Regions from separate parts of the Homo sapiens genome. Here region 2 is linked to region 1. Evidence: fine-mapped QTL for protein levels in blood plasma. Region 1 holds a variant in brackets. A gene starts in the other region. All regions are shown on their forward strands. Region 1 holds the start of ITIH4-AS1 (ITIH4 antisense RNA 1). Region 2 holds the start of VWC2 (von Willebrand factor C domain containing 2).

What was found. PIP is the posterior inclusion probability: the model's chance that the variant is causal. The UK Biobank Pharma Proteomics Project read protein levels with antibody pairs (Olink). The fine-mapping took linkage between variants from a reference panel, not from the people measured, so its PIPs are less certain.
Region 2: VWC2 starts here. The variant in region 1 is fine-mapped to the plasma level of the VWC2 protein (UK Biobank, PIP above 0.99).

The regions. Positions count from the first base shown.
Region 1 is chr3:52,816,676-52,825,697 of GRCh38, forward strand. It overlaps ITIH4 (inter-alpha-trypsin inhibitor heavy chain 4), which reads right to left. Exons shown (of 24, transcript NM_002218.5): 7 at 8,167-8,283; 8 at 7,722-7,890; 9 at 7,515-7,640; 10 at 7,148-7,329; 11 at 6,881-7,066; 12 at 4,316-4,455; 13 at 3,956-4,110; 14 at 3,616-3,642; 15 at 3,265-3,315; 16 at 3,079-3,117; 17 at 2,718-2,843; 18 at 1,787-1,861; 19 at 1,582-1,608; 20 at 1,377-1,493; 1 more. ITIH4-AS1 (ITIH4 antisense RNA 1) reads left to right here and starts at 7,260. Exons shown (of 3, transcript NR_046615.1): 1 at 7,260-7,318; 2 at 7,437-7,662; 3 at 8,530-8,639. RefSeq lists an enhancer at 2,950-3,938 and a silencer at 7,584-7,741. The variant C/T (reference allele first, on the strand shown) is at 7,249.
Region 2 is chr7:49,765,478-49,774,499 of GRCh38, forward strand. VWC2 (von Willebrand factor C domain containing 2) reads left to right here and starts at 8,161. Exons shown (of 4, transcript NM_198570.5): 1 at 8,161-8,636. RefSeq lists an enhancer at 1,530-1,779.

The DNA of each region.
Region 1 (9,022 bases):
TAGTGACCTGGGTTAGGTCCCTGGGACAACTCCTCAGTGCCCTCCGGAGCTGCAGGGGTATATGGCAGGGCTCTTGTCTCTTTGCCCCTCCTGTGAGTGTAGCTGCTCCATTCTCAGGTCCATGGCCTCAGGCCACCTGCTGGTACCATCATCAGCCACTGTAGCCTGAAAGGTCAACCCCTGCCCCGGGCTCCAGCCTGGGCCTTACCCGGGCATCACTGAGAATAGCGTCTCCTTCCACTTGTACGCAGAGCTTCTTCGGTTCCGAGTCACCACCACGTGTTCAGGGGATGCGTGAACCCATACCAGGGGGTTCTTGAAGGTCACTTCGATCCATGAGAACCCAGCCTTCTCCCTCTCATACTGGCCAGTCACCTCAACCCCTGGGAGGACCAGACCAGAGAGGTCATAGCTGGGCCCCAGCCAGGTCTGACACCGACCTGCATGGGGAGTCCCCCCTGATCACACCCCCTGGAGTTCTGCAGCAGCTCCCTCCCTCATCAGGAGGGGTGCCCCTTTCTCAGCACTCCTTCACACTGGGGGCTGGCTCCCACAATCTCTCCACTTGTCCCTTGGTGTCTAAGGCTTTGGAGGGGCCCCTAAATCCTCGGCGACGGCCACCCTCAGTTGAGGCCTTTGAGAATTAACTTGTCTCCAGTCAATAAGCCTTCAGAACGCCCCATGGAGCGCCTGGCCCTGAGCTAGATGCCGCGGCCAAGGGTAAGATGGAGAATTGGTGCTCCCTGCCCTCAGGAAAGACATTCCTAGCCTGAGTGAGGAAGTGGGTGACACATGCATCTGAGGAATGAGAAAGCCATGGATGTCCCTTGGCTTTGAGCGGGGCTGGGCGGTGCGGGGGTGAGCACTGCTGAGTGGAGTGTGTCCCCATGTCTGGTCCAGGATTGAAGGGGCAGGGCCCAGCCAGCACCCCTGTCTCTTCCTGCCATTCCCCTCATCCACACCTTCTAGGTCTCATCTTTTGGGGCTCTGTACTCTGCAGGCACTAACTCCTCCATCATCTGGAACATCCTCATGCTGGTCTCTGTGCACCCGCCATGGCCCTGCCATCCCTGTGTGACCCCAGGCAGCTCCCCTGACCCTTGCCCCACCCTGGCTCCTCCTCTAGGCTCACCTCCACATGGCTGCCATGCTTATCTGTGCCTTGGCCACCCACACCTGCACACAAGGTGCCCAGTGGAAGGTCCCCGGGGTGTCTGTGTGAGTGTGTGCCCATGCCAGCACTGGGAGGCAGGACCATGCTATGATCTGGGAGGGGCCTGTGTGGGGCCAGCCTGCACGCGCTGTGTGTGTCTCTGTAGGCAGGTGGTGGGTGTGTGCCAGTGGTGTCTGGGTCTCTCTGGGTGTGCCTCTCTCACCTTGCTCAGGGTCTGAGAGCAGGTTCACTGGCCCCTGGCGGTGTCTGGGGTCCACACAGAGCCGCTCCACACTCTGCCCAGGCAGTGGCAGGATGGCAGAGGGAGCCTGTATGGGGGCTGGGACAGCCGGGGCACGGCTCCTGGAGCAGGAAGGGCAGGCTGGGGGCAAGGATGTGGAAAGGGGCCAAGGGGGCTGGGAACTTACCTGGGGTTTGGGTTGTCATGGTTGTTTCTAAAAGAAGAAAAAGTCTGGGTTTAGGCAGCCCCTTCCTGAGGAGTGGGAGGTTGAGGGAGGGAGCAGTGACTAGGTGTGGCTGGGTTCCCTCACTACTTCAACATCGAGACATGTGACAGGTCACTCCCCTCCCAGGATCCCCCTGTTAGGACAGGGCCTCTGGCCTTGGGGGCACCTTCGATTTTCATATTCATGACACGAGACACAGCTGGATCAGGATTTGAGGTGGCTGGTGGTGCTGAAGCAGGCACTAGGGCAGGAACATCCGGAAACAGAAAGGGAGCAGGAAGGCAGTCAGGAGGCGGGCAACCAGCAGCGCTGCCACCAAGCTCCAGCCCCCCATCCTGCCACACATACACTCCACCTAGAATGGCCTTTGTCACAGGAGATTTTCAAACAGAAGAGCATGCTGTCAGGGATAGGTCCAGCCTGGCTGTGCAGCTGCATTCGAGTGCAGATTTGGGGATCAGAAAACAGTTCAAGGGACCTCTGTTGGCTTTCTGAACGGAGGAAGCCCTCCCTTCCTAGAAGGTTTCCTCATGAGTCAGCCTCTAGAGTATAGTGGATCCTACTCAGTGAAAGTAAAGGACAGGTGAAGTCCTGCCTTGGGGAGGGGAGGCCTGATGTCCATACACTGGGTAGTGGGGAGAGGGGCCTTCAGAGAGAGGAAGCTGGCAAGGACTGCTCCAAAGAGCGCTGTGATGTGCATGCTTGGCCAGTCCGTGCCCCTCTTAGGGCCTAGGGTCCCCTCTGAACAAGGAGTGTGGGAGAGGCTGCTCTGTCATGGCCTGTGGTCTGACAACCTAGGGGCAGCTAAAGGACCCGGGTGAGCTCGCATCTGAGGAGATGAGACGCTAAGGATGGGGCAGGGGGCAGCTGCAAAGAGCTGGGAAGGCGAGGACAGCCTCCTTAGGAAATGCACTCCCACCCCAGCCCCAGTAAATGATCCCAGGTTGAACTGACCCACAATTACTTCACATCGTGCCCTCAGCAGCCGTCCCTGGCCTGGCCCTGTGGTGCGTGCTTTACCCCACCCCCCTCTATGGGGCAGGCTCAAGGACCACCGTGGGAAACCGAGGCCCTCGCAGGGCCGGAAGGCAGCTTACAGATGGCCAGACGGCGGAAGGGGTGGTAAGCAGCATGGTCAGGAACATCAGGAGGTCCTGGGAGTCCAAGTTGCCTGGAGCTGAGAACCCCAGGTCTGAAATTCATCCGGGAGCCAGCAGCTCCAGCTTTGGAGAAATCGACAGATGCAGTCTTCTCTCAGGTGGGGTGTGGGTCTTCACAGCCAGGGCTTGAGATCCACCCAGGAGTGGGTGCGGAGAGGGCAGCTATGTCCCCTCTCCCCACACCCGGCCAACTTGGGGAGCCTCTCCCCCAACAGCTGGGAGATGAACAATAATGGACCTCCCTCAAGCTCCCCCCCAGGGATGTCATGCCTCCCCCTGGCAGAAACCCTCAAACTACCTTGTCTATTCCATCCTCTTCTTGGAGAAAAGGAAGCCTCTGTGTGGTCAAGTCCTGATCAGATACAACTGAACTGAGGCCCGAGGGCTGTCACCAGCCAGAGGAGCTGGGCAAGGCACTACCCTCCACAGCCAGGACTGAGCCCAATCTGTCAATCTCCCCTCCCCCCACCTCCTACTTTGTCACCTGGTTTTGGTATTTTTGCTCCCTGGAGATAATATTTGAAGAAAGTGGAACCTGGAAATCAGTGGGACCTGGGTTTGCATCTTGCACCCACCTTCCTGTGGCCCCACTTGGATGGGGACTGTATTCTTAGTGCTGGGGACAGGGCCTGAGGCACAGCCAATATTTGAATGCACAGGCGACTAAATGCACCAGCATGCTGGGTCAGATTACACTGCCTCCTGGCAGCAGGGATGGGCTGGAGAGGCCTGGGTGGACCTGGGCCCTGGCCAGCAACCTCACAGGGCTGGTGCCCTGGACCCTGTGTTAGCAGACCACCACCCAGCACAGCCTTTGAGGATGTTCGCTGCTTACCTGAGTGGACATTCCTGTTTCTACTTTCTGGATAAAACAAAGAGAGAGAGAGAGACAGACAGACAGAGACACAGACAGACACCGTCAGGGTGGTTTTCATCAATTTGAAGCGCTTGTGTTTAATCTTGCTACCCAATCCTGGACTATATCGTAGGTGCAATGAATTTGGGGAGACAGGAGACCCGGCTTCACTTTCCTCATCAGTGAATAGGCTGAATCTCCCAGGGGGAGTCTGTTGGGGGCACGGTTGGGGTCTTGGTCAGGATGCAGGGAAGATCGGGGAGAACGCTGGGTCCAAACTCTGCTACCTGGGAGGCTGAGATCTCAACCCCACACCCACCGCCTTCCATGGGCTTCTCAGCAACTTGAGACTGCTCTTGGTCATCGGGTTTGGTGACTACCATAGATGTGAGAGGCGTGACAAAGCTGTAGGCAAGTGATAAATTCAGCGCTTGGTTCCGGAGGGCCTGCTGATCAGCATCGGATGCGGAGACACTGTAGGTGGAGCACATCAGAGCTCAGGAGATCCTTGAATTCGGGAACAGATTTTCCATCCAGCCCCTTCTGGGGAGGTCCCTCTGGGAGAATCTGGAGCTTGGACATGATGCCAAGACCCCCCTCTCTCCATGCTTAGGCGCTGTACCGTGCCACCTGTGCCTGCCCCCTAGCGACAGGCTTAGGGAGGTGCTGATGCACTCACGTTTGCTCCAGCAGCTGCTGGATAGTCAGGTATGCCCAGAGCCTCTCCATGAAGTTGTGGAAGATATACTTGGGGCTCTGGAACTCCGCCTCCTGCTCTGCCACACTGGACTCCGTTTGGAAAGTGATGTTCTGTGTAGGCTGGAAAGAGGGGCCCAGCCAGGGCAGGAGCAGTGAGGGCCGGACATCTGCATCTGCCTGGCACTTCTGAGCTCTTCCATGATTGGGGCTGGGGCAGGTCCCACACACTGACTGTGGGGACTGCATTTCCTTTGAGTGGGGGTAAGGAGGGGGCTTAGGGGTGCAAGGGGCTCAGTCACAGAGCATACAGGGATGAGAAGGAGGTGAAAAGGTAGCAAAGTAGCCCAGATACAATAAGGCAGGCACAGCGCCAGGACTCAGATCAGCCAAACCTCTGGAAGAAAGGGATGGGAACCCCAGGCCAGTGTAGAAACAGCAGCAGGAAGGATTTGCAAGTGCAGTGTGGAGCAGGAAGGGTCTAGCTACAGCCTGCCCTTACCCCCAAAGCTGAGGGAAAGGGACAGAGAGGGAAGGACCTTCCCAGGGGTCAGAGGCAGAGTTGAGAACACAACTCAGATGTCATGGCTCCGGGTTTGGGGCCCCATCCACCCCAACGGCTGTCCCTGTCCAAGCTGGCCCCTCTGCGGCTGGCCACCGTGGGACAATGACAGGGAAGCATGCACCCAAGCTCTGTGTGAACCTGCTCCCTCCTCCCTCAGGGAGGGGCCTGTGGTCTCAGACTGACCTAGCTCGCTGCCTGGGAAATGGGCTCCTAGGGCAGAGGAATCCCAGGCCTCTCCCACCAGAGCTCCCTGAGTGGCCAAGAGACCTTTTCACAGTGCGGATCAGATCTGCGGTCTGCTCCCACTGGAGCAGCCTGTCTCTCGCCCAGAGCCTGGCTGGCTTTCCAAAGCTTTGGCACACATAGGCTACCTGCATGAATTTTGCCCCATCCACACATACAGCTATTTAATTGATATTTTTCCTTAAATGAACTTTAAGTAAGCTAACAATTTTTACTTGGCTTTATGTCCATAAAATCTTAGATCTGGGCCAGGTGCGGTGGCTCACGCCTGTAATCCCAGCACTTTGGGAGGCCAAGGTGGGCAGATCACGAGGTCAGGAGACCGAGACCATCCTGGCTAACAAGGTGAAACTCCCTTTCTACTAAAAATACAAAAAATTAGCCGGGTGTGGTGGTGGATGCTGGTAGTCCCAGCTACTTGGGAGGCTGAGGCAGGAGAATGGTGTGAACCTGGGAGGTGGAGCTTGCAATGAGCCGAGATCCAACCACTGCACTCCAGCCTGGGAGACAGAGCGAGACTCCATCTCAAAAAATAAAAAAAAAAATCTTAGGTCTGAAGTTCAGGTCATATTTTTCAGAATACACATTAAAATAAGTAAATAACCACTAAAACAAGCCATGTCTGTCTGTGAACTCCCCTGAGTCACCTTGGGTTCTGTACTTTGGGAACCCACGGCCTCCAAGCTAAATCACCTGCTGACATGTATGGAGTGCTTATCACTGGACATCAATCACAGTGACTTTATGAGGGGGGCATGCGACTTATTCCCATGTTTACATAGGAGGAAACTGCAGTAGATGGAGGTTAAGTGACTTCTCCATGTCTCCTATCTGGGAGGTGGCAGAGCTGGGTTTGAAGCCAGGCAGGGTGGCCACGCAGACCGTACCAACAGTCATGACACTTGGGGACTTGTCCTGAAACAAGGCCATGGGCCCCCAACGCCCACTCCTATTCTCTTCACACACGCTGCCCTCATGCCACAGGGGCCTAACATATTCCTCCATTGCCCCATCTGGACTCTTCCCACCTCCTACTTATCCTTTTGTCTCTGCTGGGCCTCCTCCAGGAAGCCCTCCCTGATCCCCAGGCCAGGCTGGGGCTCCTGGTGCTGCTCTCCTGAGTCCAGGGTTAGATCCCAGCCTGTAGCTGGTTTGTGTGGTGATATGTCCTTGGGTTGTCTCTCCCATGAGGGCACGGAGGGGTCAGCCTCATTCACTGCTGCATCCCAGGGCCTGAAGAAGGCCCTGCCGCAGAGCTTGTGCTCAGTTTCTCTTTGTGGAAATGACAGGGGGTCCCTGGAAGGAGGCAGGGAAGGCTGGGCAAGGACAGGGTGCCACGTGGCAAGCTGGGCTCTTGGCCTGGTTGCAGTGGGGCCCGGGGAAAGCTGCCTGCCCTGCCTGGAGCTCAGTCTGCTCATTTGTGAAATAGGAGCAGCCCTCCCTGTCTGACTGCAACCTGAGAGGGTTGTGGTACCAGGACAGGAAGGGATGACAACTAGGGAGGAATCCCTGCCCTCACCTGTGCTTGCAGGTGCACAGACCGGCTGCCGAGAGCCTGTATGTGCTGGTCTCATGAGAATCACTCCATTGTCTCATTGAATCCCTGCCATGCCCCTGTGTCATCCACAGGCAGCAGAGGGGAAAGCTGGAGCTGGGCAGGTCTGGGATTTGAGTCCAGCCCCTCTGGCTGCAGAGGTGGAGGCTGCCATTCCCCTCCAGGGTGGCTTTGGCCACACTCACCAGCTTCCCACTGACTGTGGCTGTGAGCACATCAGGCCCCCGGTCCTGGAGCTTCCCAGCCACCACCATCTCTGAGCCCTTGAAGAGGAGCCGGAAGTTGTTCTGAGTGACCTCCTCCACGGCATTGCTTGGGTACTCGAAGGTCACTGCTGTCAGCAGTGGGTTGGCCACTTCCTGGTAGAAGTCCTGCAGGGTTGGGGGTGTCATAAAGGCTGGGCTTTATGACTGCCCACTTCTCTGTGCAGCCCACCTGGGGCACACTGGCACCTGGAGCTGCAGGGCAGAGTCTGAGTCCTCATGGATGCGCCGGGCCAGGCCGCCATTGTCCAGTGCCAGCTTCTCCAGGAAGGCATAGCTGACGTCGAAAC[C/T]GAAGCCCAGGCAGAAGAGGCTGTACCGGCCACTTACAGCTTCCCGCACGTTATTCTGGATGCTCCTGGGGTTAGTCTCCCCTGGACCCAGGGGTTTGGGATGAGGGTGAGAAAATAGTGATTTGCTTGAAGAATATTTCTGGAACCTCAGAGCCGAGGGGCCTCAGTGACCCCCTCTCCCTGCCCAGATCCCACAGCAAGCCCAGGTGCAGCCCCAGCCGCCTCCCCTGTGCAGCACGTCCTGGAGTCACGGGCAGGGCCCTCACCCACAGTGGGGTCGCCATCGGTGAGCAGGATGATGAGTGAGACACTCCCTTCGGGCAGCCGCTCCTCCTGGTTGCTGCTGTCCAGCAACTGCACAGCCATCAGCATTGCATCATTGATGTTGGTCCCTGAGGAACACGCACTCTCAAGGTGGTCCCCAGCCAGGAGCCCTGGAAGCCCCCACCCTGCAGGGCCACAGAGACACTTACCTCCCAGGGCCTGGATGCCCGCAGCAAAGCTCCTGGCCTTGTTCACGTTCTCGGCTGAGGCTGGCACCAGTGATGGCCTCCACTGAGTTGCTTCTGTACTGAAGACGATGAGGTTGAACTGGTCTCTGGGGCTGAGGTCATCCAGGATCTTGATTAGGGCTTCCCGGGTCTGGTCAGGGAGAGGAAACATAGGTGCTTCAGAAGGGCTCCCTGAGGGCTCGTGTGCCCTAGGGCTGGCATCCTTGGACTCCTGTCTCAGGGGTGAGGTCATGGTATCTGCTCTAGGAACAGGGGCTGCCCTAGGCTCTGGCCAACCTTGGTTCCTGAGAGCCACCCGCCCCATGGTGCCGAAAGGTGAAGCAAGGGGGTCTGCCTGCCGGACCACAGCTGATAGCGTGAAGGGCCTGGGAGTTTTCAGGGCCCTGCCCTGGGCCACAGGACCTACCTGCTGGATTTTCCTGCCACTCATGGAGCCGCTCTTGTCAATGACAAAGACCACATTCTTGGGCATTGTGGTTAGGCCCTCGGGGGCAAAGTAGTGTACAAAGTAGCCGTTCTCGATCTGTGGCCAGAGTGAGACCCACCCAGGCCATCAGAGCTACAATTGGCCCTATCCCCATTCAGCCCCTTTACCCCAAATTCTGGGTTTCTGTGCTCTGTTCCAATCCCATTTCCATCCCACTGCTAACCTCCCCAAAACCTTGCCCTTTTTCAGGGCTCAGACCAGCCCCTTTCTTGCGGAAGCCTTCCCTGCTCATGCATAGCCCACCAGAACTCTCCCTGCAACTTTTCCTTCTATTTGTTTTAGTATTTCAGATGGTTTATACTAAAAAGTTCAGACATCATAAACCTGACAACCATCAAAAGAGGGAAGACTTCAAAAACATGGAGTAAAAGGGAAGTATAATAACAATGGCAGAAATGGCTGGGTGTGGTGAATCACGCCTGTAATTCCAGCACTTTGGGAGGCTTAGGTGGGAGGATCACTTGAGCCCAGGAATTCAAGACCAGCCTGGGCAACCTTGTCTCTACTGGAAAAAAAAAAAAAAAAATTAGCCAGGTGTGGTGGTGCACGCCTGTAGTCCCAGCTACTAGGGAGGCCGAGGCAGGAGTTTCTTTTGAACCTGGGAGTTTGACGGTGCAGTGAGCCATGATCATACCAAAATATAACAACAATAATAATGCCAGAAACTAGTGTGAAAGAAACTACTGCAAATCTGCATAAAACTGAGTTGTGAGCCTCCCAGCAGCAGAGGCAAAGAGGGAAACCCCACAGGGCAGCTCTTCTCAGAGACAAACCT
Region 2 (9,022 bases), not on the chromosome of region 1:
GAATTCCTCAATAGCCCTCCAAAGGATTGTTTTCTTGAATATCACTAGGGAGTATGGAATAATTAGGATGCATAAGGTATGAGAAAAGTGATATAACAAGAATTCTTGGCCCAGAACCACAGAGAAATTTCAGGCTTATTTATGCCTGGTGCTGAAAGGAAGGAGTTTCTTTCAATAGCTGGAGATAAAACTTAGCTAGCATGTTCCTGAGTGAGGGCGTGAAGTGGTGCCTGGAAAAGCCTGGAAAATGGCAGAGAAGTACGGAGGCCTGTGCTCCCTCAGTGTCCTAGGGCTCAGTGTATTTGCAGAACTGTTTTGCATGATTAAGTACAGTCCTAGTGGGTTGGTGTTGAGGAGGTGGGGAGCTTAGGGAGAGGGGTGAGGGAGTGGAGGGGGTTGGTAACCGGAGATGTAGGAAAAAGCACTTTGTGTCATGTCGTTTTGTGATTCTTTGTTAATTCATCCGGTAAACATTTATTGTGCCCCTGCTGCATGCTATAGATGCTACATGCTCTAGATGCTAGAAATACAGAAGTGAGATAGAGTAGGGGTGGTCACTGTCATTGTCCTTGTCCCGTAAGTCCTAGATATCTATATGTTCTCATGTTTAGATCCCATGAAGAAGTCGTTTGGAACAAGGACTTACCTCCTTGTGACAATGAGACCAGGATTCTTCTGAAGCACACACCCACTGTCTCAGCCCAAGTATGAGGCCCAGTGTCAGAGCTTCAAGCAGCGTCAGGGAGAAGTCAGGTTCCTGACCATCTGTTTACAGAGGGAATCCCTTGTACCTCCCATCCTCAGGTTCTGCCATTATCCCATATAGCTAGTGATACTTGGGAAAGAATTGAGGTGCCCCAGAGAATTTCAAAGTCCCCTTGGCACACCAGGGAATATTCTAGAGCTCAACAAGCTTGGGACCAAGGAGATAAGCCATCCTGGGAGACCCACTTTCCTGACTCTCCACCAAAGATGCATGTGCCCCTGTGATATTATGAAATACATATTTGGTCTTCAACTCTGCTTCCTAGCATATATCTGCTAAAATCTTTAGAGTCCCCAGAGTAATGTCTTTTTGTATTTTAATGAGTCTGTCATGATTTAACCTACATGCCTGCCTAACGAAGCCTCCATAAAAACCCAAAAGGATAGCATTTGAAGAGCTTCAGGATAGCTGAATGTGCAGTGGTTCCTATGAGGGTGGGGACCTGGAGAGGGCATGGAAGTTCCATGCCTTTTCCCCCACACCTTGCCCTATGCATCTCTTCATCTGTATCCTTTGTGATATCCTTTATAATAAACTGGTAAACAAAGTCTTTCCCTGAGTTCTGTGAGCCACTCTAGTAAATTAATCAAACCAAAGAAGGGGGCTTATGGGATCCCCAATTTATAGCCAGTCATTCAGAAGCACAGGTAAAACAACCTGGGCCTTGAGATTGGCATCAGAAGTGGGAGCAGTCTTGGGGACTGATTTCCCAACCTGTGGGATCTGAGGCTATCTCCAGATAGACGGAGTCAGAATTGAACTGAAGGACACCCAGCTGGTGTCTACTGCAAAACTGATTGCTTGCTTTATGGTTGGGGGTAATCCCCAAACATTTGGCCACAGAAGTTTTCTGTGTTGATTGTCATGGTGTGAAAGCAAATTAAAAATAGAGTTTGTTTTTTTTTCTCTTAGCCACTGACTCATTATGAGCCCACCTGGAAACACCCTCCCCTTCCTGCACTGCTTTCTGCTGTGCTCAGCCAAGCAAAGCATCCCCTACATAGACCACAGGGTATAAATAATACTCCATCTCTTGTGGTATCACAGCCAGGTCCAGTGTCTGGCTCCTGGGAAGACCATGGGCCAGAGAAGTCAGGAGAAAACACATCCCAACTCAGAAGGGCTCCAGAGTGGATTTCAGGTTCCCTTTATTGACTCCAAAGAAAAATCCTGTCCAAATAGGGCCACATGGCATGCAGCACTAGCCACAGATTTCCTCCTTTGGAACTCTCCAAAGGTAAGAGGAGGAAACAGCTTTAAAAATGCAACCCGAAGCTTCTTACCTCTGCCTTATGGATCTAGATCCTTTCCCACTATTGCACAGTGCTATGCCATCTGCAATTCCAACCATTCTAAACCAACTGCTTATTGTACTTCTTAGAGTAGTAAACTTTGATAGGCCTTTGTTTCACAACAATTGTTTCTGAAACTTCTTTTTAGTCCACATCTATGGGGTCTGTGATACCAGTACAGTGGATGACTTTATAGTCTACGAAAAATGGATCCCTGGAAACCTCTTTTCAAGGAGTAAGATTTTGCCACTGATTTCAGAAGAATATCTGTGAGTCATCCATTTGATTATCTGAACAGATGCTGCTGACTTTTGGCATCGTAGCAGAAGGCATGAGTCCCCAAGGTGTGCTGTAATCAGGCAGCATGTGCGGCAGGTCAGCCCAGGGAACAGTAATTCTCAACCACAGACATGTATCAAAAGGGGAAGCAGTAATGGAGCTGTTGCCCTGCCGACTGGTAGCTCGTTCCAGGGCAGAACTTTAATTAGTGGCTCCCTTAACAGCCAGGCCTGCTCTGTGTATATCCATAAAAAGCCATCTGAGCACCAAAGTGGCCTCTCCCACTCATTAATGGTCACCTTTCTGCCTGAACCACAACGATCCTGCTGACCCTTGATTTCAGGTGGAAGTGGCTTTTATTCCCTCTAACCCTCAAAGATGGTTTCAAAGCATTTCCTTCACTGGCCCAAGCCCAGAATTCAAGTTAAATGGCTTTGCCAAAGGTGTGAACTAAATGAAGGAAAGTTCTTCTCCTTGGGCTCAGGCAATCTGCAGTCAGCGGGAGGAGTGAGTGCATGAGCAGGAGTGGGGAGCCCTTTGTGTTTTCTGCAGACACTGCTGCAGCTGCTGTGCCTGGAACACACAGTCCCCAGGAGGCCCTCCTTCCCCAGGGCAGCCACACTGTCTCCTCACCTGTAAAGGTGAGGTGTGGCAGCAGTCTGCCAGTTCTCTCCACTGCCACCTGTAAAGCTGGCTCACCTTGGCATCCCAAGCAGTTCTCCCCATAGAGCAAATATGCAAGGTTCCCTTGCTGGATCTGCGTTCCATTAAGGCCTTCTTGGTTTCCTGGTCAGGTCTGCAGTCATCCTAACTTCGTTTATGTTTTATTCCACACAGTCTCTTTTCCACTTTCAAACCATAAGCAGCTGGCACCCTCAGTTGCAGCAGATGACCTTGTCTCATCCTTCTGTGAGCACACCTGAGCTCCTTACCTCTCTTCTATTTCATTTGCAAATGGGTGCCCTGAGGTGCCTCTCCTCCCGGGGCATGGTCCCTTGTGTTTTCCTCCCAGGCAAACCTGCTCCTTGACTCTTCTTCCTCAGGGTCTGGTATAATATCCATCAAGGGATCCTTTCTCAGCCATGCATGTGTTAATGTGTTCTCTCATTCGTGGGCAAACATGAGTCCCTGTTAGAGGGGGTCCTGGCCTGAGGACATGAAGATGGAGTGACATCTCAGGACTGCCCCCGAGGCCCCTACAACCCACTCTGGTCCTTGCATGACCTGTTGCTTCTCTGCTGTGATGAATATAAGGCCTAGTGCATGAGGTCGTGCAGTTCTGGCTGGATAGAGAAGCTGGGGAGAGCCAGTTAATCCAGAATAGTAAGTCATAGAGCCACAGCCCACTTGGAGGAGACAGCAGTGGAGCTGTACTGGGACAGGACACTGGGAGTGCAGTCACAGGTGTCACTGTCAACCAGGCACTTGCCTTATTAGCTGGGTAACCTTAGTCAAGTCTCAACCTCTTTCAGGCATGGTTTCCCATGGGCAAAATGAAAAACAGTAATGGTTGCTAAGACTAGTAGTATTGTAAGAAACTGAATGAGATGGTTGTGAACTTGCCCAATATTGTATAAATAATAAGTGAATTTCTCCTAATTCTGGCTTTCCTTCCTTCCCTCCCTCCCTCTTCCATCCTTCTTCTTTCCCTCCTTCCTTCCTTCTTCCCTTTCTTCAATCCTTCTTCTTCTCATCTTTCTTTTCTTCCTTTTCCCTATCTTCTTTGTTCCTTCCCTCTTTCCCTTCCTCCCTTCCTTTCCTTCTTCCCTCTCTTCTTACTTTCTCTCTTCCTTCCTCTTTTCCTCAATTCTTCTCTTCCTCCTGCCCTCTCTTCATTCCTTCCTTCTTTCCCTTTCCTTTCTTCTCTTCCCTCATTCTTTCTTTCCTTCCTTCCTACATTTTTTCCCTCTCTTTCATCCTTCTTCTTTCCCTCCCCCATTCCCTCTCTACCTCTTTCCATCCCTCACTACCTTCTTCTCTTTCTTTACTTCCTTTCTTCCTCCCTCCCTTCCCTCTTTCCTTCCTTCCTCTCTCCCTTCTTCCCTCCCTTGCTCTTCTTCTCTCCCTCCCTCGCATTTCTTCTCTCCCTCCCTCTGAATTGCCTTCCCTTTCTTTCTCCCCTCCCTCCCTCCCTCCTTCTTTCCTTCCCTCCTTCTATTGCTGCTTCCTTCCCTCCTTTTCCCTTTCCCTCCTCAATTGGTCCTATTGGCTCTAAGAATAGAAGGATGAATAAAGCATAGCCATTGCCCTTAAATAAGCAACCATTTCAGAGGTGAGTACAGATAATGCAGAGCTATGAAAAAGTTGACTGTTATAAGGGACATTAAAAAAACAGTTGACATAAAAAAAGTTGACATTAAAAAAAAGTTTAAGGGACATAAAAAAAGTTGACATAAAAAGTTAACTGTTACAAGAGACATAAACCACTCTCTGGGGAGAAAATAAAGGTAAGATTAATTCTGCCAAAAGGGACAGGAAAGGTGACTGGCCTAGAATCCTGCCTGGAACCCACTTGCTCTGCATTGCTCAGGGTTGGCCCTGTGGCCAAGCTCAGACTCTCACACCGGCTACTAAATATGACTGTACCTCAGCAGATGGATTTAACTCTTGCACACAGGAAGAAAATGGAAGCAACAAACTCAGTTAAAACGGGGCATGAAAGCAGAAATGTGCTATATTCCTAGAGTGCTTTGGGCTTCCTATTCATTCAGAGATCCTCTCTCTTCCCTTTTAAAGGTGAGAAAACAAAGAGCCTGTAACACTGAGTGACTTGTTCAAAGTTGCAAAACTGGCCCCTGGTGGAACTTGGATTACACTCATGTCACTTCAGTCCCTGACCAGAGATCTTTCTGCTCCTGCCTTGCACTCTAGCCTGGAAAAAAGGAAAGGATGGAAAAGTAAAGAGGAAGGGAAAAGCAAAAGGGAAGGGGAAGAACAAGGGGAAGTGGAGAGAAAGAGAAGGGAAAGGGAAGGGAAGGAGAGAGGAAGGGAGGGGAGGGGAGGGGAAGGGAGGGGAGGGGAGGGGAAGGGAGGGGAGGGGGAGGGGAGGGAAGTGAAGGGAAGGGAAGGGAAAAAGGGGGGATGGGAAGAGAAGGGAAAGGAAAGCAAGGAAAAGGAAAATAAGTGGAAAGGAAGAAAGGAAAGAGGGAGGGAGGGAATAAAGGAAAGAAGGAAAGAAATGAGGGAGAGAAAGAGGAAAAGGAGAGAGACGGAGGAGGGAGGGAGAAAGGGGAGAAGGAGGGCAAAGGGAAGGAAGGAAGGAAAGAAAGGAACAAAGAAGGAAGGAAAGAAGAAAAGTTAATCGCAACAATTCATTGCACTGGCAATAAATAAATTGTATATTCCTTCAACGCCTGCAAAGTCCCCTATATTTTCTCGAATTACTCAGCTCATCAAGCTGCATGGGTATTGCTCTTCTTCACAAAGGACAGCAATCCCTTGGAAACTGCTTTCCTCCCTCATTCTATCAGGCCTGTAACACTATCTCTGAGAATATCTAACAGAACAAAGCCATTTGGACACTTGGTCACTTAATTCATCCTCAGTTTTGTCAGGCCTCTTCTTGAAAACTTGGCTATCTCATATTCATGGCTCTCTACTGGAAGCAGCTGGCTGGGACAAGAAGTTTCTGATTCAGAGAGACCGGTGATTGAGGTGGGATTAATAAAGGGACATCATTATTTCCTCAGCTGAGCCCCCAATCAATTTTTCAGTTAGAATCCTGGACACATAATGTTACTGTTTCGTTCTTATTAGTCACATGTGTTTGGGGCTACCCCATCGTAACCACATGAGAGTACTGTTGGCAAAACAAAACAAACAGGATGTTTAATGACAAGAACAGAATTAGCTAATAAGTCAAATAACAAAATTTGTAGCCTAACCAATGCTATAAAAGCACTTGATTTTATAGAACCGAGGGCCCATTTTGCACATTACATATGATCACACCTCGAGCCGTGTTTTTATTTTGGTGGTGTTGTGAAAGGTGTGATATTTGGATTAGAGCATCATAAAGACACAGAAGCCATAACTGATTAGAGCATGTGATGAGAGGCAGGTGGGTGGGTAGGCAGCTGCAGCCACAGCAAATGTGGCCTGTCTCTTTTCTGAGGGTAACAAGAAACGAAAGGGCCGAGTGTGGTGGCTCACACCTGTAATCCCAGCACTTTGAGAGGCCGGGTGGATCATTTGAGGCCAGGAGTTCAAGACAAGCCTGGGCAACAAAGCAAGATCCCATCTCTACCAAAAAAAAAAAACAAAAAAAAAACAAAAGAAAAAACCTAAACGAAACAAAACAAAACAAACAAACAAAAAATTAGCCCTGTGTGGTGACCTGTACACCCAGCTCCTCCGGAGTCTGAGGCAGGAGTTTGAGGCTGCAGTGGGCCGTGATCATGCCACTGCACTGAAGCCTGGGTGACAAAGTGAGATCGTGTCTCTAAAACATTAAAAAAAAAAAAAAAAGGAAAAATGAGAGTGAGAACTGAAACAGCAGAAGGGCTCAAATCATCCTGTACATAGAAATCCTCCATCCAGGCCAGGCGCGGTGGCTCACCAGCATTTTGGGAGACCGAGGCAGGAGGATCACGAGGTCCGGAGATCGAGACCATCATGTCCAACATGGTGAAACCCCGTCTCACTAAAAATACAAAAACAAAATTAGCTGGGGGTGATGGCGGACGACTGTAGTCCCAGCTACTCAGGAGGCTGAGGCGGCAGAAAGGCATGAACCCGGGAATCGAGCTTGCAGTAAGTGGAGATCGCGCCACTGCGCTCCAGGCTAGGCCACAGAGCGAGACTCCGTCTGAAAAAAAAAAAAAAGAGAGAGAGAGAGAGAAAGAAATCCTCCATCCAGCCCTGTTGGTTGTGTATGTGTTGGAGGGGGTGGAGGGGCAGCCTTCTCAGGCTTTCAAGGAGGGCTCCCTAGCACCTCAGCTAAGATTTGTTTGTCTATACTATTAAAAGATAGACATAACTGTGTCCCAAACCAGCCTCCCCAGTTCCCACCAGCCAGAGCGCCTGACCTTGCAGGGAAGCTTATCTGTTTACCGTCCGAGCACTTTCAGGGATTCTAAAATGCCGTGAGTGGGAACCACTGCCATGGGCCATTTCCATGAAAATTCAATTTCGGGGATTAATTTGAACAGGTACTATTGACGTTTTCTCGTTTACACAAGATCAAAGAGTAAAAACAACCGGGCCTCTGCTTAACAGTTGAGGATTCTAGCAAAGTTAGGAAACAGGTTTCTATTTGTAGTAGAAGAGAGAGCAGGCAGAAAGAGGAAGATGGGAGCGGGGAGAGATTGGCAGAGATTCAGAAAGTTCGCGCTTGAGATTTTTACGTTTCTTACTCGTAAACGTCTATTTCTCTGGGTTTCTGAATGCAAAGACGAGAAAGTCTCAACAGTCTGCTAAACTAACACGGCCTTCGAATCCCAATCTGAACACAGTAGCTGAAACAAGCTGTCCACAAAGAGGAAAGCCAGAGGGGGCCAATTAGGAAGGAAGAAATTAAAGAAAAGAGAAAAGCCAAGATGAAAGGTCCAGCGCAAAGTGAATGACTCGACTGGAGAATGGCAGCCCTGGCAGGGTCTGCGGCCGGCTGCGGAGGTGGGGACGCGGCCGCGCGGACGAGTGACAGGTTGGTCCGGCGCAGCAAAGGGAGCGGGTGCGGCGGTAGGGCCTCTCCGGGGGCAGCGCGAGGGCCTCCCCCGGGGCAGCGCGGGCCAAGGCGGGGCCTCCAGAGCGGGGGCAGCAGAGGAGGGAGCGGAACGGGAGCCGGGCGGAGGCGGCTGCGGCAGGGGGAGGCGGGAGGCGGGCGCGCTAGCTCCCATGCTGGCCTCGGTGCCACTCGCGCGCCGGCCGCGCTCCGGGCTTCTCTTTTCCCTCCGACGCGCCACGGCTGCCCAGACATTCCGGCTGCCGGGTCTGGAGAGCTCCCCGAACCCCTCCGCGGAGAGGAGCGAGGCGGCGCCAGGGTGGCCCCCGGGGCGCGCTTGGTCTCGGAGAAGCGGGGACGAGGCCGGAGGATGAGCGACTGAGGGCGACGCGGGCACTGACGCGAGTTGGGGCCGCGACTACCGGCAGCTGACAGCGCGATGAGCGACTCCCCAGAGACGCCCTAGCCCGGTGTGCGCGCCAGGCGGAGCGCGCAGGTGGGGCTGGGCTGTTAGTGGTCCGCCCCACGCGGGTCGCCGGCCGGCCCAGGATGGGCGCTGGCAACCCGGGCCCGCGCCCGCCGCTGCTACCCCTGCGCCCGCTGCGAGCCCGGCGTCCGGCCCGCGCCCTGCGCTCATGTATGTAGGTTTGGCGCCGGTCTTCAGGGCTGAGGGTGCATGCTGGGTGTCCCCGCGCGGCCGGACGCGCTCCAGCTGGGTTCAGCCGCTCAGCTGCTCCGGAGGAACCCCCTCCCCCGCCCAAGTTTGTGAATATGGGCGCTTCGCCCAGTGTTGAGGTCGGCAGGGACCGGGCAGGGGGTCAGCAGGGCCGGGCACGTCCGGAGCCCTCAGGGAGGAGGGCTGAGGGGGAGGGGACAGACGCACCGGAGTGCGCAGAGTGGGGGCGTTCGGGGAGTGAGGCGGAGAGAGGCTGGATTGCCGGTGTCCTGCGGCGTCTCGGGCTCTCCCAGCCCCTTTGGGCGGCAGAAACTTTGGAATCCAGAAAGGCTGGCCGGGATCCAGCG